Regions from separate parts of the Homo sapiens genome. Here region 1 is linked to region 2. The links come from fine-mapping of genetic effects on gene expression. Tissue or cell type: skeletal muscle. Region 2 holds a variant in brackets; the other region holds the start of a gene. All regions are shown on one strand. Distances are between the middles of the regions.

Evidence for each region. PIP is the estimated chance that this variant, and not a neighbour inherited with it, causes the effect.
Region 1: SLITRK4 starts here. The variant in region 2 is fine-mapped to the expression of SLITRK4 in skeletal muscle (GTEx, PIP above 0.99).

The regions. Positions count from the first base shown.
Region 1 is chrX:143,629,620-143,640,462 of GRCh38, forward strand. SLITRK4 (SLIT and NTRK like family member 4) reads right to left here and starts at 6,482. Exons shown (of 2, transcript NM_001184749.3): 1 at 6,116-6,482; 2 at 1-1,539. The coding sequence starts at 1,489.
Region 2 is chrX:143,576,734-143,587,576 of GRCh38, forward strand. No RefSeq gene overlaps it. Among named protein-coding and RNA genes, the nearest start is that of SLITRK4, 54 kb to the right of the region's middle. The variant C/T (reference allele first, on the strand shown) is at 4,754.

The DNA of each region.
Region 1 (10,843 bases), 53 kb after region 2:
GTGCTCCGGAAAAGATGTAAACAGGCAGGCTCTTTAGGAGATTATTGTTTAAGTACAGTAACTGCAAATTTGGCATGGAGTCAAAGGTGCCTGCTGAGATTTCCTTAATCAAATTGTATTCCAAATACAGATACTGCAGGTTATGAAGACCTGAAAATATTTCAGGATAGAGTCTCTCAATTTGATTGCCATTGAGATATAGCCTGCGTAAATTAGTGAGATTGTGAAATACGTCTCCCTTAATCACTGTAATTTGATTGCTGCCTAAATGAAGCAAATCCAGTCCTTCAAAGTCAGTGAAGTCTGATACGTCCACATCCTTGATGCTATTGCCATTGACGTGCAGCTTCTTCGCATTTAAAGGTTTCGGTATCAGTTCAGACATAGACTGTATATTTTTCTCTTGGCAGTTCACACTTAGTCCCAAATCTGAAGGGTGTGTTTTGCAGAAGCAAGGTGCCGGGCAAGGTGTTAGAGGAGGCACCCTTGTTTGGTAAGACACAATCTGACTGAGATTGCGGTTGGAGAGGGCTTTGCCTGCAACGATTCCAGAGATCTTGGAAGGATTTGTTGTTTTTGGTGGTTTAGTTACTAATCTGTGTAAAGATGTTTGGGTAGTGTGACCATTGGGAGTGGTGTAGCCATTTTCCAGCTGAGATGGAGGCAGGATGCGCACGTCAAAATCACTGCCGGTGCCCATGGGACATAGCTCTTGTTTGTTGGTTTCTTTTAAAAGCCTTCCATATAAGTCACTGGGAGTTTCACAGATAGCTTCTCCTATGTAAATGTTATATGGCATGTTCTCCAGCCAAGCTTTTAAGGGCAATAAATCACAGCTACAGTTCCAAGGGTTATCTTCCAGTTGCAATTCAACGACACGGCCAATGTGTTCCAGAACCCCGATATAAGGGAGCTTCTGGATTCTGTTCCCTCGTATATCCAGATGGGTCAAAGATGCGAATCGGAAAATATTATCAGGAAGGAATGAAATCAGATTGTCATTAAGAATGAGAACTTTCAGTTTGTGGAGCTTATTGAAGGCTCCTCGTTCAATATACTTGATTAAATTGTAGTCAGCCTGGAGATACTCCAAGTTCTCTATGCCAAGGAAAGTGTCAGCTCGGAGAATCTTTAATTCATTGTTGTTCAAGTGCAACTGCTTTAATGCACTGAGCCCAAGAAAGGCTCCTCCCTCAATGTTCTGCAGTTTATTATTCCCCAGATGCAGGGAGACTGCATGTGAAAAATTCAAGAATGTATTTGGATACAGAATATTTAAAAAATTATTTTGGAAATTGAGGTGATAAAAATTAGACCAAGGTGGTTTCAGCTGATTTGGTCTGTAGACTGAAACCTTCTCACAGTTGACATAGAGCACATTCTCAACTGACACGCAGGAACACACATTGCAAATTTCCACCGATATGTCAGAATCTGCATTTGTCGAAGAAATCAGGGCTGACAAAATCAGAAACAGCCACAGAAACATCTTCTTGCAATCAGCAAACAACTGTATGCTTCTGAATAAAGAGAAATAATCTAAAAAATAAAAAGAAAACATTTTTTCAATGGTCATTACTTGAAAAATTACTTGTATGTAAATCATACCATAGTGAACACATGGCTATAATTACCAGAGTTGTATTTGTAAGGCAATCAAACCTCCAAATAGTCTCACTCAGTCGAACAATAATAACCACTAAAACTGCCATACATTTTATTTTCCATACCTGTGGTTTATACCAAATTCACATGTGCAGAACACACAACTAACAGTAGGAAAATATATTATCAATCATGCTTAAATCTTGCAATCTGAAAATATTTTTTCCACGTGGACCGTCAAACTCTGCCCTTGAACACAGGCCTTAAGCTTCCTACTTGCACTTCAAATGACCGAGACCATCAAGTATGCCATCGAGTTTGTACCACAAAGCCATTTTGATTAGTGGATATCTATTCTCTAAGCTTCAGCTAGATAGAGAGGCTGAATTAAAAAAACAAAAACAAAAACATTAGAGCCCAGAGTTCACTGGAGGATGGAAATGGGAGGATTGGGCTGCTGTAGCAGGGACTGTTAAAAGACTAAGGAACAGTGACCTGGGAAGAGATTTGCTTGTGCTGTAGCCCCATAGGTAAGTTCATTGCTGTCAATCGGTTTACTCCTGTACACTGCTGCCTTCAAAGACACAGACGACGCTGTGCGGTTCTAGAAAAACAACTGAGTAAGGGATGGCCAAATTTTATTTTCTGGTAAATAAACAGTCTCTAATTTCCTGTCAGTCATCTCCCAAAGAGGGAGCAAAAAGCCTTTTGTCTTGGAGCCTCTGAAAGCAGCAGAGTAACCTGCTTACTCCTGCATTGCTTAGCTAATCTCCAGGCAGTCTTTCCACTTTGAGAACTGGCTCTCTTGCCTCCCTGGCCCTCTCCCACATCTTTATTTACCATTTTGAACCCAGGTCCGACTGATCCTCGGCTTAACTGCTTTATCTCTTTCACTTTGACCACAGACTGCAACTGCTGAGGAAGGGGAGTTCACACAACACAATCTTTGAGTAGCTTTTGCTACAGCACCAAATATGTTCAGTACAGCACATTTTTCGTCCTAAAATCATCAGTTCCAAACACCCACCCGCCCTTCCTAATATTACCACCCCATGTCCCTGACTGTAAACGCATAAAGAATCACTTGTTGGTAGAGTTTAATGCTTAGCAAAATAACTCATCGTTTTCAGGTCCTTAAATACTGCATATATACACAAACATACACGATGCTTCCTGGAAAAGATTAAACAACACAAGCAGAGTGCATTTTATTGATACTATTTTAGCAATATTAGTCTTTTCCATTGTGAATGGGAAGCTGGGTGCAATTTCAATATCGTTATCTCCAAATATTAATTAAATACATAAAATACCCAGGAACACACAACAAGGAAATGATGCAAAGAAAGAAGTGTCGCACAGAAACTCCTTTGTTTATTTTACCCACGAGGAATCAGCTAGTGGTAAAACCGAACATGTCTCAAGGTAGACAACCCATTAGCCATGACCCAGGAGGATTTGCATTTTAAGTAGTTTGGTTCAGAATACAGCCAGCACTGCTGAGATGCTATTTGGCTGCCATATAGACGTGCATTTCCCCTATTCACCATGAGAGCATGATTGGCATTGCAAAAAGAAGTCATAATTCTTAACTATGACATCACCTAAAGCAACTTTCATTGTAAAATCAAAATTTCACTTGATATTTTTTGCCTTGTTATGAATGTGGTTTTCAACAGCTATTTTGGTTCAGTTGAGTCATTTCTTGTTACTAAACCACCACCCCACCCACCTCAAAACAAAGAAACCCAAAAGCAACCAAACTAAAAACCAAACGCAGAAAAAAAAAAATCCTTATAATCCGAATTCAGTACAAAAACAAGAACCAGGAATCTCAACACATCTGAAAATGCATAAGGAGCTGCCCTCCTCCTGGTGATTGCTACTTTAAGTAGCAAGGGGGGGAAAAGGCACTAGTAAGAGCCAGGAAGTTCCCAAATGCAGCTCTTGTGAAACAGAGGAAGCCACAAGCAGCTGGAGGGGCAGGCAAGAGAGAGAAAGAGTCCAGTTGGTCCACCAAGGAGAGAGGAAAAGAGGTACTGAAAGGGCAAGAGACCATGGAAATGTGGAGAAAGGAAGAAAAAGAACTCGGAGAAGGGAGCTACAAAGAGGGTAAAGGGAGCACTGAATGTATGCGAATAAAGCCTCACACTCCGGTGGTACCACTGAAACATGCACATTTAAACATCAAGGGAAAAACGCAAAAAAGAAAAGAAAAAGCCCACAAAGTACCAGCTGGGTACCAAGAGCCTTCTCTGTGGCTGCTGGGAGCTGTCCGTCTTCCTCTCGGTGCCCTGAAAGACCCTTGGCTCTCACGACCAGCCAGGACTGAACAAACCTAGCCCGACCAAAAACAAATCCTGCATCCACCGGAGTGCAGCGCCTGGCACTCCGCGACTGGGAGGAGAGAAGCGGCCTGAGGGGGGCAGAACACTGATGGGCTTCAGGGCGGTGGGCCGAGGTGGCTCCCCGAGAGCTCCCTCGGGAAACCCCGCTGGCCCGCCTAAGGCTCGGATGGAGGTGGAAGAGGTTCGCGGAGAGACCCGGCCATTGCCGCCCGGGTGCGCTACCTCGGGCGGGCGGCGAGGAGGCTGGAGGGGCTGCTAGCGCGTACCGCAATGTTTTGCCGCATCCCTGTTCCCGGAGCCGGCCGCTCAGCCCCCTCCGCGTCAGGGGCCCAAGCAGCAGCCTGGCGGTCCGTGTAGCGGAGGCGGGGTACCGCGCGGGATGTCGCGGGGGCCTTCAGTCCCGCCGCTCACACATTTCTCCGCGCGCTCCCGTCCCACAAGGGGCAGCTGCCGGAGTTTCAGTGGACCTCTCTAGACCCAGGCGTGCGGTGGGTGAGGAGGAAGAGAGGCCAGATCAGGCCGCCTCGAAGACGTTGGCACTAGGGAGTCACTGACCTGCTTGCCACGGGCAGAGTGACCCTGTGGTTTTGTGGCTGCGAGCGGCGGCCCAGGCTCCCCCTTGCCTGTTCTCCCTCCCTGGCCAGCTACAAAAATCCTGCTCTCACCATGCCAGAAATCAGCTCAACATTTAGGCCCCTTGCAAAGTCGCGCTGGCAGCGCTCGCCTGGCTTTGCAGAGCTTTTAGAGTTACCCACCGGCTCTTCCTCTGGTATTCCTAGTCTTGCCGAGCGCTAGCAATCTCCGACCAACCCGCGGGCCACTGCCCCGAGCCTCAGATCCACGTCTGCGGAAAGTGGCTGCGAGTGGGGTGCAAAAATAAAGCCCAACCCAGCCCAGCGGCCCGACAGCCGGAGCCACCCGAGACCTGTACAACTTGCCCCGCCGCCCTGGCCGCTTGGGGTATGGTGGGGGGGGGGGCGGGCAGCGATGCCAAGGACACCCGGATCCTTTCCGGTCCTCAGCGGCATGAGACCGCGTCGTAGGCAGGCAAGTGGGAGGTGGAGGGCAGGATTAGCCACCTCGGCCACTTTGGCCACTCAACCGGCCCCAAACCAACAGGACCCAAACTAAAAATAATAAGCTACCTGCCCCCTCGGCTCGCGTGCGCGCGCGCGAGATCTCTCTCTCTCTCTCTGTCTCTCTCTCACACACACACACGCACGCACACGCGCTACTGAGCTGAGCGGGGAAGAGGCAGCACGCGTGTCGGTGCAGCTTGTGCAGCCCCCGCTGAAAATTCACCCACCTCTAGAGCCCAGCGTCTGGTGCAGGGCCCGCGGCGCCGTGACCTGCGCTGCTGTTTCCACGATGGTATCTATGTGATTCCGGACAGAGCTCCTCCGCGCCCGCTCGCCCGTCAAACCCACGGAGCAGCCCCAGCAGGCGAGCAGGCGGGCCGGCGGGCAGGCGGGCAGCGGCGCGCGCGCGCACCCGAGCAGACACCGCGCGCGCACCCAGCGCCTAGCACACGGGCTGCACCTTTACATACACGCGCTGAATCCCCGCCCCCGCTCTCCACCACCCCCCCCCACCCCGCACACAAGCAGTCCTTCCTCCCGACACTCGACCACTTTGACCCCCTCACATTCCTGAGCTCCTACCCCCGTCCCCCATCCAGACATGCCCATTTGATTCCTCTTCTACCCACACACCCAGAAAGACAGCGCGCTTTCCTCCCGGCATCCGCCCCCTCTTTTTGCCTAAAACATTCCCTAGGGAGGAGCGACCCCTTTCCTCAGGCGTGGAGACCCCAGTCCTCTAACAAGGGCGCACTCGCCTCCATCCCCCCCACCACATACACACACACTCGAGCCCTTTTCTTCTCTTCCAGTCCCCTAATAACGAAGGAACACACACACACACACACACACACACACACACACACACACACACACACGGGGCATTCCTTTGAGAGAGCAACCAAGAAGCCAGGAAAAGCCAAAGAAACACTGGAGAGCCTGGGGGAGGGGGGCCGAGGGAGATCGATAGGGTCGTCGAGTCTACGCGGAATTGAATAATTACAGGATGGAGGGGAATGAGTCAACAACAATGACATTCAAATGCAACAATCATACTTGGATTTTGTATCACGGGTACGGTACCTTTGGCTAATTGTCACCCCGCAGAACGGAGGGCTCCTGGAATACTTCTCCGTGGCGGTCGATCCTGGAAGGAGCCTTCTTGGGAACCAATTTCCTAGGATCCAGTAGTATTCGCACTCCCCCTACCTGTCTGCGCGTAAGGGGCCAGGGGCTTTAAGGCGAAAGTGTGAGGCTTTAGCCTAAAGTGAGACTATTTAGCCGGGTTAGAAGGAGACGGGTTAATTATCCGCACCTTAGAACTCCGTGGGCCTTTGGTGCAGAATGGGTTAAGCCGGATGATCTTGGAGCTGGGGGTGGGGATAGGGGATAGGGGATAGGGGTTGAGGAAAGAGAGGCGTGGGACTGGGAGAGATGCCGCACTTGCGACCAAAAGAAAAAAAAAAAAAAAAACTACTTTGGCTACTGAGCATGCCCAGTTCCCAGCTCAAGCCCTATAAGGGAGGCATTGTGTGCATTCCACTTCTCCGGGCTTTGGTGGTGACCGGGAGGGGAGTTTGACTGGGGAAGGGGGTGGTAGTTGGGAGACATTAGGGAAAGGGGGTTGGAGAACAAGGTTTGAAGCTTTGGGACTGCTCAGGAGGGACTGTGAAGAGAGAAAGGGAAGGGACCCACGGAGTACCTTCGGGAGACGGGGAGAAGGAGAGGAAATGGACTAAGAAAAGTCACTTCAGTCGCCCCTCATTGTGTATACCAAAGAGGCTTTAGCAGCTGAATCTGAAATATCCAGTGGCTGCAAATCCAACGTGTGGATTGTCTAGGCCCCTTCTTCTACCCTTTTTGTTAGTGCTTCCACAAGAGATAAGAAATATTCTGAGGAAGGGCCAATGTTCAAACCAGTTTCATGCAAATTGATAATTTCGTTAATAAGCTTGTTAAGAAAATAAATAAACCTGGGGGAGGGGAGCAGAGAGGAGTTGGCTATCATGTATGTATTTCAGATACCTGGCTTTCCTAAACAAAAGGCATAAACATTGGATGTGCTCCCATCCCCCAACCTTGCTGTTTTTTGTAGGAGCTTGGCTAAGAAAAACAACTCTCTCTCTCTTCGTGTCTGTGGGAATAAACTAGCTTTAGGTAAGTAGAGCTAAGTTATAAATGGGAAGTATTTCCCTAGGACTCTTGGTAGCCTATTATTTGCCACATTCAGGTAATACTGCCAGGCCCATTTCTTCAGGACCAGTGTGTTGCCCAATTTACTTATTCAAATCCCAGCGGCTCTAGCCACAATAGAGCACAACCGGTATCCAGAAATGTTCTTGCTTAAAAATGAAAAAAAAAATCTTTAAGCTAAAACTAGCAACAGCTTTGAAACCAGAATTTGGCTGTCTGCCTGAACTCCTACAGTTAAACATTTACCATAATTGGTTGATGTTTAAAGGCCCCAAATCTAGGTAGAAACATCTGATGGGCAAAGGATTTATTACATTATTTGTGAATAATGGTCTACCTTCTGTATCATCTATAGTAGTCATTCATATACATGTTTCATTGTTTTTCATTTTTTGTCATTTTATGGGACTTCCGTCAGGTTATATTCACACAAATGTTCACCGGGCACAACATGTATACAGAGATGCACGTACAATATGTAAATGAATACTTAAATAGATATGCGTGTATGGGCATATTTCTTTATGACCTTGCTAAATATTGTGTCGTTCATGAAGAACTCTTTCTCTACCTTCACTCCACATTGCCTTGAAAACTGTAATCATCCTCTCTTTTACAAACAACCTAGAGACAGAAATTGGGCAGCATTGGTAAAATTTATCTTATTCAATGTGAAATCCATTATGAAATAGCATTAAGGAAACACTAAAATATTTGTCTATAACAGCGTATGTAATTGTGCAGCTCCTTTTAGCAAAGTGAATGATGTTTCCTTCATAGGTAACAGCTGCAGAATGTTGAAAAATCCCTCTACTCTTGCACACTTGGACAAAACAGATCCTGCTAATTAATAACTCACATTTGCATTTTATTGTGTAATGCAGTTTGAAAGTAGTAATGGGTATCAAAACAAGTTGGCATTTATTCTAAATGCTAACAATTCAGGAAGCTGAATATATTTTATCCAGATAGGTGAAATGTTTGTCTTTTACTACAAATGTTAACAAGAGTCAATAGAATGAGCAAAAAAAGTTTACCTGAAAATTCTAAGTAATGTGATAACTGAAAAGGCCAGATTTGGACAGTAAATATCAGATGATTTAAATGCCTATCTTTATTCAACTTTAGAAACTGTTCTGAGACTTGGCTATATTTAACTGCAATAACTGTGAAATGTTATTTTTCATATGGATATGGAGACAAATCTGAAAGCCACTGTAGCTAGATCATCGATAAATTACAATTCATAATATTCCTAAGAACTTATCTGTGATTAATATTCAACTTTTTTAAATGAATGCTTTAAAATAAAATGTTTTGCTACTTAAAAAGATAAAGTGGACACTCATAAAATAAAACAGAAGTAACAACTTCCATGTTTTATGCTTATTTTGCTTTCAAAGTAATTAACCCAATCCTTTAGTCCCACAGTCCCTTTTCCGTCCCCTAGAACTACAGGTGACATCCCAATAGAACAGTAGGAAATGACACAGAATTGCTAGCTTAACAAAGGAAGTGAATATATACATAAATAAAAGTGTTAAGAAAACTCCAGCACTATTTATGGCCATTGAAAGAAAAACAAAATTGATGTTCTTCCTAAAATGTAAGCATGCAAATATTGTGAGTTTTGCAATACTCTCACGGTCTTCCTCCAAATGTTTTACCTTATTTCATCTTGACTTTTTAGGAGTACAACCAGAATCGTAGGTCTACACTGATATACTGTGTCTCCCTCCATCAGGGAAAAAAACAACTGCACTAAGAATTTCAACAAGATCCTGTATACCCTCCGTTCCGAAGGCAGTTTGGAATTAAGTCATTAAAACACTACCAACCGAAAGTGATTATAATGCCAAGTCTTGGCCCTAGTCAGCGGTCTTTCACTTTCACTGTATTCCTCATTTATCTTGCCTTGTCTTAGGCTGCTGCTCAAAATCAAATCAGCCTTAATTTTCGTATCCAGGTATCACAGATGATTCAGTGTATTTTAATATTGAAGATTTATTTATATTCTGGCATTTTAACAGTTACAAACTTGCTATTTCTCTTTCATTTTTATTTATTTATTTTTGAGACAGAGTCTCACTCTGTCACCCAGGCTGGAGTGCGTTAGTGTGATCTCGGCTCACTGCAACCTCTGCCTCCTGGGTTCAAGCAATTCTCCTCCCTCAGCCACCTGAGTGGCTGGGATTACAGGCATGTGCCACCATGCCCGGTTAATTTTTGTATTTTTAGTAGAGATGGAGTTTCACCATGTTGTCCAGGCTGTTCTCAATCTTCTGACCTCAGGTGATCCGCCCATCTCGGCCTCCTAAAGTTCTGGGATTACAGGCGTGTGCCACCGTGTCCGGTCACACACTTGCTATTTCTCTAAGTGGAATACAAGAAAGTTCTTAGGATGTTAATATATCTTCTGGGAAGAAATGTTTCCATGATCAAATAAGTTTAAAAGACCCTTGGTTCCGTAAAGCTAAACATTTTATTTTTACTTTGGGATTTTTCAACACAATTAATTATGTTTAAATGAGCTTTTATTTACCAAGGGAAAAGGGATATGGCATGTGGCATTTCACAGACTTACTTAACAATGGAACCCTTTTTTCTATCTATATAATTTGAAAAACATACTAATAGCCCATTTTTACAAATTTTCTGGAATTTAGAACATGAAAGGAAGTTTTCAGATCATAATTAACCCATTCAATAGTAGCTACTGTCTGTTGAGTGCCTCTTCTTTGCTGTGCTGCCTACAAATATTATTTCATTTAGTTCTATGAACAAGGAAGGGATTATCATACTTATTTTAAAAATGAGGTTAAGTGACCAGGCATGGTGGCCCATTCCTGTAATCCCAGCACTTTGGGAGGCTGAGGTGGGGAGATCACTTGAGCCCAGGATTTCAAAACCAGCCTGGGCAACATGGGAAAAATCGTCTCTACAACAAATACAAAAATCAGTGGTGCATGGTGGCACATGCTTGTAGCCCCAGCTGCTTGGAAGGCTGAGGCGGGAGGATCACTTGAGCCCAGGAGGTCAAGGCTGCCATCAGCTGTGGCCATGCCACTGCGCTGCAGCCCAGCCAACAGACTGAGACTCTCTCAAAATAAAATAAAATAAAATAAAATAAAATAAAATAAAATAAAATTCAGGGAAGGTAAACAGTTTGCCCGAGGTCACATGGTGAGTAAGTGATGGTCAAGATTTGACCCCAGATCTTTGAGGTTTTTCCAGTACACCACATTTTCGTTTTCACAGGGGGATTAGGGAATTTTTAACTTTGAAAGCAGAATAGACTTGAAAGCTGGGCAGGGTGACTTAACGCCTGTATTCTCAGCACATTGGGATGCCAAGACAAACAGTCTGGGCAGCAAGGTGAAAAGCCATCTCTTTAAAAAATAAATTTAAAAAAATAGCCAGGCATCGTGGGGTGCACCTGTAGTCCCAGGTACTAGGGAGGCTGAGGTGGGAGGATCGCTCAAGCTTAGGAGGTCAAGGCTGCAGTGAGCCATCATCAAGCCACTGCACTCTAGCCTGAGCGACAGAGTGACCCTGTCTCAAAAAAAGAGAAAGGGATAGATTTGAAAGCAGAATAAATTTTCCAAAGATGAATACTTG
Region 2 (10,843 bases):
TGGAACGTGGTCAGACTTGCACCCAAATGATGCTTGGAGCTGAGCCCCCTCTCTGCCTACCTGCATCGGACGGAAGCATGAGCAAAATGCTAATCTTTATTGGGTTAACACACTGAGATTTGGGATTTATTTGTGACTGTAGTTAGTCTACTACTCCGTGAGCCATAAAGTCCTATACAGACATAAGAGATCAACACCTGGGGCAGTGCAAAAGCAGAACTGATAGGTCAGGCTGGCTTTTTAAGAATAGGCTTTGGATCTGAGAGAGGTCTTCTGCTCATACATACCTCTTCCCTCTATGTTCACTTGTACCACTGGGCCATTTGTTGGCAGTGCATCATAGAGCCAACATAGGAGTTAGAATGGGAGACCAAAGACTTTGTTAGCAATGAAAAGTAGGAACTAGATATGAGGGCATTGATGCATAGATGGAGGGTGGCAGACTAGGATAGCACAGAGGCCTGAGGTTGCTAAAGAGCTGGATTCAGAAGACAGGCAAGCAGGCGGAATTCAAGGAACACATGGATAATGTCAAGAAAAGAAATGAGGCACTTTGTCCCAAGGCAACAAACGTGCAAAAGCAAGTGGTCAGTATGAGCCAGGAGACTGGAAAAGATGGGTTCTGTATTAGTCAGGGTTCTTTAGAGGGACAGGACTAATAAGATAGATGGCTATATGAAAGGGAGTTTATTAAGGAATATTGACTCACGCGATCGTAAGGTGAAGTCCCACAATAGGTAGTCTGCAAGCTGAGGAGCAAGGAAGCCAGTCTGAGTTCCAAACCTCAAAAGTAGGGAAGCCGACAGTGCAGCATTCAGTCTGTGGCCAAAGGCCCGAGAGCCCCTGGCAAACCACTGGTATAGGTCCAAGAGTCCAAAAGTTGAAGAACTTGGAAGTCCAATGTTCGAGGGCAGGAAGCATCCAGCACAGGAGAAAGATGGAGGCCAGAAGACGTAGCTAGTCTAGTCTTTCCACGTATTGTTGCTTTTATCCTAGCCATGTTGGCAACTGATTAGAAGGTGCCCACCCAGATTGAGGGTGGGTCCACCTCTAGCAGTTCACTGACTCAAATGTTAATCTCCTTTGGCACCACCCTCACAGACACACCCAGGAACAATACTTTGCATCCTTTAATACAATCAAGTTGACACTTAATAATAACCATCACAGGTTCAAAGTCCAAGAACACTGTTCTTTGCTCCCATCTGAAATTCGAACCATTTTTCAGGACTTTATTCAAATGCTACCTTTTTAAATAAAACCCCCAACTAAATTAGGAGGTTTGAATCTGGAGTCCATGTGCCTGGGGGATGTAAGAATAAATTTCCAAAGAGTTCTTGAACTCTTTACACTTAAATGCAAAATCATGTGCCCATATTTTTAGGGATAGAATCTTTTCTTTTCATCAGCTTTTTAACGGGAGTCAATGAATAAAAACGTTTCAAAATATCTTCATTGGTTTTGTGAAGAAAGGCAAGTGTTTCTTCTTATCCATCACTTTACCCCTGCTTAGCACAATGCAGTTCAGTAAATGATCACTGAAAGAATATATGTGTCTTCCTCTGAGTCTCCAAGTTGAAATTTCTCTCTTGGTCATTGTGATTCTCAAATCACTTGGTTTAGAAACGTACAAAACGTTCTTCATAGTTGTTATACTAATTTACATTACCACCTACAGTGTCCAAGAGTTCCCTTTTCTCCACATACTTGCTAGCATTTATTATTGCCTGTTTTATGGATATAAGCCATATCCAAGACATTTGGGGTGAAATGATATCTCATTGTAGTTTATATTTGCATTTCTCTGATGCTAATGTTGAGCACATTTTCATATGTCTGTTTGCCATTTGTATGACTTCTTTTGAGAAATATCTATTCAAATATTTTGTCCATCTTTTGATCAGATTATTAGATTTTTTTCTATAGTGCTGTTTAATCTCCTTATATATTCTCGTTATTAATTCCTTGTCAGAAGGGTAGTTGCCAATATTTTCTTCCATTCTGTGGGTTGTCTCTTCACTTTGTTGATTGTAACTTTTGTGCAGAAGCTTTTTAACTTGACGTGATCCCATTTGTCCATATTTGCTTTGGTCCTTCCCACTCTTCCCTCCCTTTTCCAAAGGCAGAGGAGCCACCCCTGGCCACAAGGAGTACTGCCAGACTACCACTGATTTTCCCTTAAGTCTCAAGGTCTCTTAAGTCAGCTTGTGGTGAGTGCTGTCTGTCCTGGGACTCATCCTTCAGGGCAGTGCACTCCCCTCTGTCACAGGGCAGGTCCAGAAATGTCATTCAAGAGTAAACAGTCTTGACTTGCTGCTCTACACCCCTGTGGTGATGTTGGTACTTGAAGCCAGCAAGTCTCAGAGGCTCACCAAAACCCTTGATGTAGCATAGCACCTGGATATTACTGCTGGTTATTCAGAGCCCATGCTAGCAGGACTGGATCCCTTTCTTCAAATAGGTTCTCTTCTGGCCCAGGGTATATCTATAAATATCATCTGGCTGATAGGGCCTGGAATGGGAGCCTCTTGACTCTGACTGGTGCCATATCCTGCTGTGGCTAAGCTGGTATTTCAGGTGCAAGAAACGATCCTCCCCACTCTTCTCTCTACTCTCCTCAAGAGGAAGAAAAGGGTCTTTTTTGGAGCTGTGAGCTGTGCAGCCTGGGATTAGGGGAGGGGTGATGCCAGCACATTTTGCCTGCCAAAGCTGGTGTCACAGTATGTCATGTGGCCTTCTAATCCATTATCTCTAGGCCTAGTTAAGCCCTTGAACTCACCTAAGAGTTGCAGTGCTTATGGGCTAGAATGCCTTTCAAGTTTAGTTAGAGACTAAGAGCACTTTGGCCCTGGGTGGCAAGGTTTGCAGGCACTCAAGTTTGAACCACTGGGATTGGAAATTCCCCTCTGGCTAAGGCTGATTTGAATGCTCCCTCTGTGGGCAGGCATCAGCTGAGTTTGGTCTGGTTTTTCTTTTCTGCTCTAACAGAGCAGCACTGAGTTCAATGCTTCACAATTGCTGTGTTCTCCCTCCCCCAGTGCCCAGAGATACTCTCTGTACCAGGATTCCACTGCCAGAGATTGAGGAGGGGTGGCATCAGCAATTCAAGGCTGTTTTTTCTACCTTTTTGGTGCCTCTTTCAGTGATATGAAGCTAAAACCAGGTACTGAGTGCTCACCTTATTTTTGGTTCTTATAAAGGTGTGTTTTCTGAGTAGATAGCTGTTAATCTGATGTCCTTGCTGGGGGAACTATCAGTGAAGCTTTCTATTCCACCATATTCCTCTACCTCCCTTGAATTGGCTTCTTTATGATCATATAGATTGTAAGTTGAGTCAAATTCTTATCTGATTTTAAAAACTTTTATCATGTTCATATTATATTATATTACATTTGGCAGTATTATGTTATAATATGGTGCTGTAGTGTTGTGGGAATCAGAAGACCAGAGAGACCAATGGGTGGAACAGGAGGATTTTATTTAGGTGGCTACTGGCACAGCAGATTCACATCCAAAGGCTGAGCCCTGAACAAACACAGGGCTTGACTTTTATATACACTTCTGAAAGGGAATTGGCTAGTTTTAATGCAGTGGCAGGAAACTGAGGGCACAAAACCTGTGAGGCGGGCAGGCAGGCTTACAGAAGCAGAACAAAGGCAGTTAATCAAACTGTGACAGGTTTTGTAACCTAAGCATAGCTTGTGACCTTACAGCTGCATGGAAGGGAAAACAGGAACTTACAAAACTTGAGACACTGAGTAATGGTAAGGGGGAAGAGGAGATAGTAAAGGAATTTGTTTTTCTTATCCTTGCTCCAGGGAGGGGGAGGGGTTTGTTGGGAGAGTCTCCGGAGCTCATTCCTTTGGGCTCTGGCTTTCCAGATAGTGTTATTGAGACTTTGCCAGGGCCCTGCCTATTGCTGGCCTTGGAGTGAGTCAGCCAAGTATAGGAAAACTTGTTTTTCTCTTTTTAACTTCTGCTTCAATAGCTGTCCCTCAAGATTGTTGGATTGAACTGACTTGAACGGAACTGAATTGAATTTTCAGCATGGGCTGAATCATGGAATCAGCATGGGCTACCAGGCAGTCAGAAACCTTTGCTCAGGTCCAACCATCTCATGTTACAGGTGGGAAAATGGAAACATACAGTGGAGAGTGACTTGCCCAAATTCAGACAGCCAATAAATGGTTAAGCTGAGTTTCTTGCCTCCTGGATAAGTGTTCTTTCTTCCATTATGTTCTGTTCCCCTTTTATTTCCTTGGTTCATGCTGTACTGGAGTGAGATCAATGGGTCAACAAATACAGCTAAATCTCTATAAAAAATTATGCATGTCTTTACAGCATAATTTAGCTCATAACATTTTAAGATACATTTTGACAGCTGGTAATGATTATGGTTATTGATTAGACAATGCATTTTTATGCATCTAATTTTCTACATTTTTAATTTCAAATATTCTTTTAAAAACAGAAGTAGAAATGTGCCAGATCTTATGATAAGTGTAGGCTACTTAATTTGAAGCAATTGCAGTCCCTCATTAGTAATAAATTAAGTATTGAAGAGAGCAGATCACTTTAATGTGTCAAAAAGAGCCTTGTCACTTGACATAATTTGAGAAGTCAACATGTGCATTTTATAATGATCGTCCATATCCAGTATTTCTGATCTAGCTTACTCTCAGTTTCTATTACTCATGGGACTTACCCAAGACACTTGTTGAGTTACAAACAGAGCCAAATATAAAGAACAAAA[C/T]AGTATCATAACTTGAATCTAAGAATAGTTGGAATGATATTTAGAACTGATCCACATCATGGAACGAAGTGTACCACCAGAAGAAGCTGCATTTGGTTGTGACTGTTTCTGTTACTCCAACATGTCTCTTCAAACCAGACAATTAAAAAATCAATTGTTTTTGTACTGATTTTTACCAAAGCAGTTTCAGTGAAAAACAAATTTTTAAAAATCCTCAACCCTCAAAATACTAATTAAAAGTATCAGTTTAGTTGATTTTTCTTTTGAACATTTTTGACCTAAATGCTTATAAACAGTATCATTTTGTATCTTTTAGTAACTATGGGCAACTGTTGAGTGAGTTCAGTCAATGATTAAATTAGTCATAAAAAATGAGTTTTGATAACGAGAAACAAAAAAGATGGTGAATGGTGAATTTAAGATTAAACCAATATTGACTTGATATAAATACAACAAATCAAGTCTCTCACATCATAAAAGTGTTTGGCTTTCTGTGAGAAATTTACCAAATGCTTTTTTATGATATTTTTACCAAATTTAGAAAAACAGGGAGCGCCAAGCAATTATTTAGCAGAAAGGCTAATAGACATAAATATCATAACAGCATCTTGTAAATGATGAAACTATATCATCAAAAGGAAAAGACAGAAATGCAATATGAGTACAAATATTTATAGGCACAATCTGCCCATTTGACAAGTACTGACTGAGTACCTACTACTCTGAGCAAACCACCAGGACCAGTGGTACACAGGTTGGAAACCTGACTATGGCAGGAGGCACACAGTCCTGCCCTCCAGGAGCTTTCAGTCTGTAGTGGGGAGAGCAGTACAGCACTAGCTGGAATAAAAGGTGTTAAGAGAAAGGAGGGAAAACACAGAATGAGGTCAGGGAAGGGAGAGAACACAATTTCAGCAGAGGAGGTATTTGAAATTGCATAGTGAGTATCTAGAGCTGACACTCCAGTTGAAAAGACTGCCAGTCTCCTGGGCACACTACTCATTCTAATGTAGTGTGATCAGGTTGTGCCAGTGGTGTAAATGGAATAGAAGAAGATCTGGGAAGATGCTTAAAGACAGTCATATGTGAGCTGGACTTAAAAACTAATAAAATATAGTGCTAGAGAAGTAAGTAGGTGCCTAATCATTTAAGGTCTTAAACACCATTTTAAGATATTTGAATTTTGTCCTGTGAGCAATGGAGAACCATCAAAGGGTAGTTAGCAGAGGAGAGACTGGTCGTATTTGCATTTGAGAAAGAGCACCCTGGCTGGAATGTAGAAAATAGATTGGAGGGAAGGGGAACAGGCAAGAAGGCAGGAAAATTTATTGAACTAGTTTTTAAGTAGAAGATTATTATGAGAGCCTAAGAAGGTCGTGGTGAGACTGGAGAAAGTGGAATCTATTTGCCAGTAGAAGTGAAATGGAAATGATAAATCTTAGAGATATACTAGGTAGAACTGATTGGACAGGGTAAGTGACTGGATTTGAAGGTATAGGGAAAAAGGAGATAAAATTACCCACTCTGGTTTTAACTTGGCTGGCCACATAATGAGTAATAGCATTGTATTAACGTGTATAACACAGAAGGACTGCATTTCAGTGTGAGTGGTGGCAAGGGGAGGAAACCGGGAAGAAGAAAGTGAGAAACTGATCTAACTCTATGAGAGCAAGAAATACCTTATTTTTTCTTATTGCAGCTTCAGCGCCTAGCTCAACAAATACTAAAATGGTTTAACGAGAAAAATGAATTGTTTTCAAAGTGCCGTCGAAGGTATTTGAATCTATGAACAGAGCTGTAGACTGAAAAGAAAGTCCGTTTCATGCATTGACCTAGTACTTAGTGAGCATCTCCTATATGCCAGGGAGAATTCTAGGTATTGAGGATATATCAGTAAGCAAAACAGTGGCAATCCTATCTCCATAAACTTATATTCTAGTTAGGCGGGAAAGACAATAAACAAATAAACATGTAATATTTCAGTTGATGATAAATGCTACGAAGAATATAAAGCAGCATAATAGGGTTAGAAAGTGACAGGATGCTTTTAATATAAAGTCATCAGCGAAGGTCTCTCTGAGAAGGTGATATTTGAATTAAGACCTGAAAGAAAGGGAGTGGGACATGTGACTATTTGTGGGAACAATATTCCAGGTAGAGAAAATAGCAAAAATAACAATATCGTAAGGTAGTAGCATGCCTAATACCTTCAAGTTCAACGAATAACAAGGAGGTGAGTGTGACTTGAAGAAAGAGAGCAAGAGAAGGAGGTATAGAAGATGAGGTCAGAGAAACAAAGGACTGGATTAGGTAAATCTTTAAAAGCTGGTATAAAGACTTTGTTTTCTTTCTCTGAATGAGGGCGGTTCCCTTGGATGGTTTGGAACAGAGGAGTGACATAGTCTGACTTACTTTTTAACAGAATCACTTTGCTATATAGAGAGTAGTTTGTAGAAAGGCAAGAGTAGAAGCCAGTTAGCAGACTAGTTACACTAGTTAGAAGCCAGTTAGAAGACTCTGGAAGTCATCCAAGCAAGAGGTCATGATTGCACCAAGGTGGAAGCAATGGAGATGGTACGGTGAGAAGTGGCCAGATTAGATTCTGCTGTAGTTTTCTTGTTATTTTGATTTGATTTTTATTTCTTAAAGGTAGAAACTGACAGGAATTACTGAAGTATTGGTATGTGGTGTGGAATAAAAAGGGAGGCAAAGCTGACTCCCAAGCATTTGGCTTGAACAACTGAACAAAAATAAAGGAGCAGCCATTTGCTAAAATGGAGAAGAATGTAGATGGAGCGAGTTTTTGAGTAAAGTATTAGCAGTTTGGTATGGACATACTACATTTGAAATGCCTATTAGTGCATATGTGTAGTTGGCAGTTAAATATATGAATTTGTATTTCTGGTAAGAAGTCCAGAGAGGAGATAAAAATCTGGAAGTCTTCAGCATATAGATGATATTTATAGCCATGTGACTGGGTAAGATCACCCAGGAAATGAGTATAAATAGAGAAGAAAATAGATCCAGGACTAATCTTAGGAATTTCAATGTTTAGTGGTCTGGAAGATGGGGAAGGTGTAAGCAAAAGATACAGAACGAGAGAGACCAGTAAGGTAAGAAAAGAAAAAAGAATGAGTGGTGTCCTAGAACCACGTGAATCAGTATTTTACAAAGAAGAGAGTGATCAACTTTTCAAATGCTCCAGACAGGTCGGATGAGAGGAGGACCGAAGATCAAGCTTTATATTGGCAACTAGGTAGTAACTTGTGACCTTGACAACAGCTGTTCAGTGGTGTGGCGTGCTTCAGATGAAAACATGATCATGGTGGGTTCTAGAGAAAATGGAAAGAAAGAAAATGGAGATGGTAAGTGGAGACAAGTATTTCTGAGTATTGATATCCAGGAGAGTACTGATGTACCTAGAAATGTATCTACCTGGTCAGAAAGGGAGTGGGGTGCAGATCGCATAGAGTCTTGCAGGCCTTTGTGTTTTACTCTTAGAGATATAAGGAATCATAATTCTGGAACAGAATGCTGAGAAACTCCCATATTTAGAGGCCTGGAAAAGATGACAGAGAGTGAGTAAGATGCTTTTAATGAGGTAGAAAGAAAAATAAGAAAACATGCAAGCAGAAGCCAGGACAGGAGAGAAGCGAATGGTCAGCGATGTCAAATGGTGCTTTGAATTCAAGCAGGATGAAGATAGGCTTGGCAAAATGTATGCTGTGATTTTCCTTATGAGAGCTGTTTCAGATGTTTCAATGTGATGGAAGGGAAAGATGTGATATTGTAGTGGGGTGAGGAGAGTTGAGAAGATCCAAGAGTAATAGTAACCAGACACATTGATCTAGGACATATACTAAAGAGGAAACTCGTGTGTGTGTGTGTGTGTGTGTCTGTGTGTGTGTGTGTGTACTGAACATAAAATGATAATAGTTCCTTTAAAAAATCACTAGCAGGGAGTGACATTTTAAACATTTAAATATTGGGCTTAAGGGAACTGAGAATGCTGATAAAAGAAGATTTGAATAAATTACCAATATAATTCTAACTTGTATAAAGGTACAAAATTGTATAAAGGATTAAAACGTAGAATAGTGACTGAGTTTGAAAAGTAAGTGCAATTCAGACCTTAATGTCTTCGGAGCTAAAATTAGTGCTTAATTACAATAATTATATCTTTCCCTTTTCCTGGTACAATTATCTTCCCCATCTCTCTTTGGTTTTTGAGGCCTTCTTGATATTTAAGCCACTCTATCAATGTATTTTTACTGTGAGCTTCCTCACAGTCAGTCTGTGGGAAATAGGCAACTACAAATAATATTTAAATGCACCTTAAGAGCTAGTATTGATGCAGAAATATTGTAGAGGAAATTACCCTAACTTGTGTCTCTACCTTATAAGAATGATTCTTGGGGTGTTTTATAGAGGAGCGTTTGATAAGGGTGAAGCTGGCCAGGAGGTAAAAAACTGAGAATTTTAACAGTGTCCTTCAACTGAGACAGACTGATGCCCTACGAGCTAGCCTGTCAAGGGTAAGAAAATCTCTGTGGGCAGTGATCAAAGCAGCCATATACCGGGCTGCTGAATAAATATGAACTATTCTTCTCTTGGGTTTTCTCTCTACATTTTCCCCTAAATTTCTTACAGACTCCTTCCCTTCTATCAACATGTTTCTCTTTGACTGAGGTTTGACTACAATACATGAGCAATTACAATGACCCAGGTATTTGGTAAAGCTAAAACAATAGCTTGTCAACAACAGGAGTCAAACTCTGTAAAATATTTGAAGAGATTTATCCTAGGCCAAATATGAGTGACCATGGCCTGTGACACAGCCCACAGGAGGTCCCAAGAATATCTGCTCAAAGGAATTGGGGTGCAGCTTGGTTTTACACATTTTAGGGAGGCATGAAACATCATTCCCTAAAGTGATTCTGAGACATCAATCAAATACATTTGAAAAATACATGGGTTTGGTCCAGAAAGGTGGGACAATTCGAGCGGAGTGGTGGGGAGGGGGTTCCAGGCAATAGGTAAATTTAAACATTTTCTGGTTTATAAATGGTTGAGTTTGTCTGGAATTAATGGAAAGGAAATGTTCAGGTTAAGATAAAAGATTGTGGAGACCAAGGTTCTTTTGAAGTCTCATAGTGGTTGCCCTTAGAGACAATAGATGACAAATGTTTTTTCTATTCAGACCTTTAAAAGGTGCTAAACTCTCAATTAATGTCTTCAGGATTGGGAGAGCCTGGAAGAAAAAGATCTAGCTATATCAATAGAGAATTTTTACAGATGCAAATTTTCCCCCACAATGGATGGTCTTGCAGGCCCATTTCAAAACACGGCAAAGAAACATGTTTTGGGTAAAATATTTTGATTTTCTTCTTTGTCAAATAATGTTATGCCAGAGTCAGATTGGAAAGTAAGTCATGATATATAGGGTTAAATAAAACCCATCTGATGATAGTTAATCATTGGTAGGGTATGACTCCCCAGACCCCTTAGATAGGAATTTGGGCAAGATAAAAAAGATAGAAATAAAAAAAAAGAATCAGAGCTTAGTCCTCAGCTTATGTTGAGTGGAATGCTCACTCAAAGTACTTTAATACTATTTAATATTCAGAGAAAACCTCTTTGGCAGTGTGAAAGGAAAATAAATCTGGGACCCCAAACTCACTAAGCCAAAGGGAAGATTCAAGCTGGAATCTGGGTCATGCAAACCTGCCTCCCATTTTTGTTCCTAAATAAGATGGCTACAAAGATGAAAGGCGACATACCTCCCTTATATTTTTTCCCACAGGGAAATTTGTTGTGGGCCCCAACATCTTTACCCTAAAGTGTGTTTCTGTTAAAGTTTACCATGGCAATGTAAACTTTAACAGAATGATAGCTTATCTTCACAGCTGTTGAGAAACAGGACAGAACTCAAAGTTATGACTCTGCCTACCTGAGACAAATACATATCTGATTGTTTCCTTTGCCGTATTGTCTACATTATCTTATGTGTTAGAAATGCTTGTTCCCCAGTGCCACAAAGAAATAGCACTTGAATATAAATTTAATTATCTCAGCAAGGCCATCTTTACT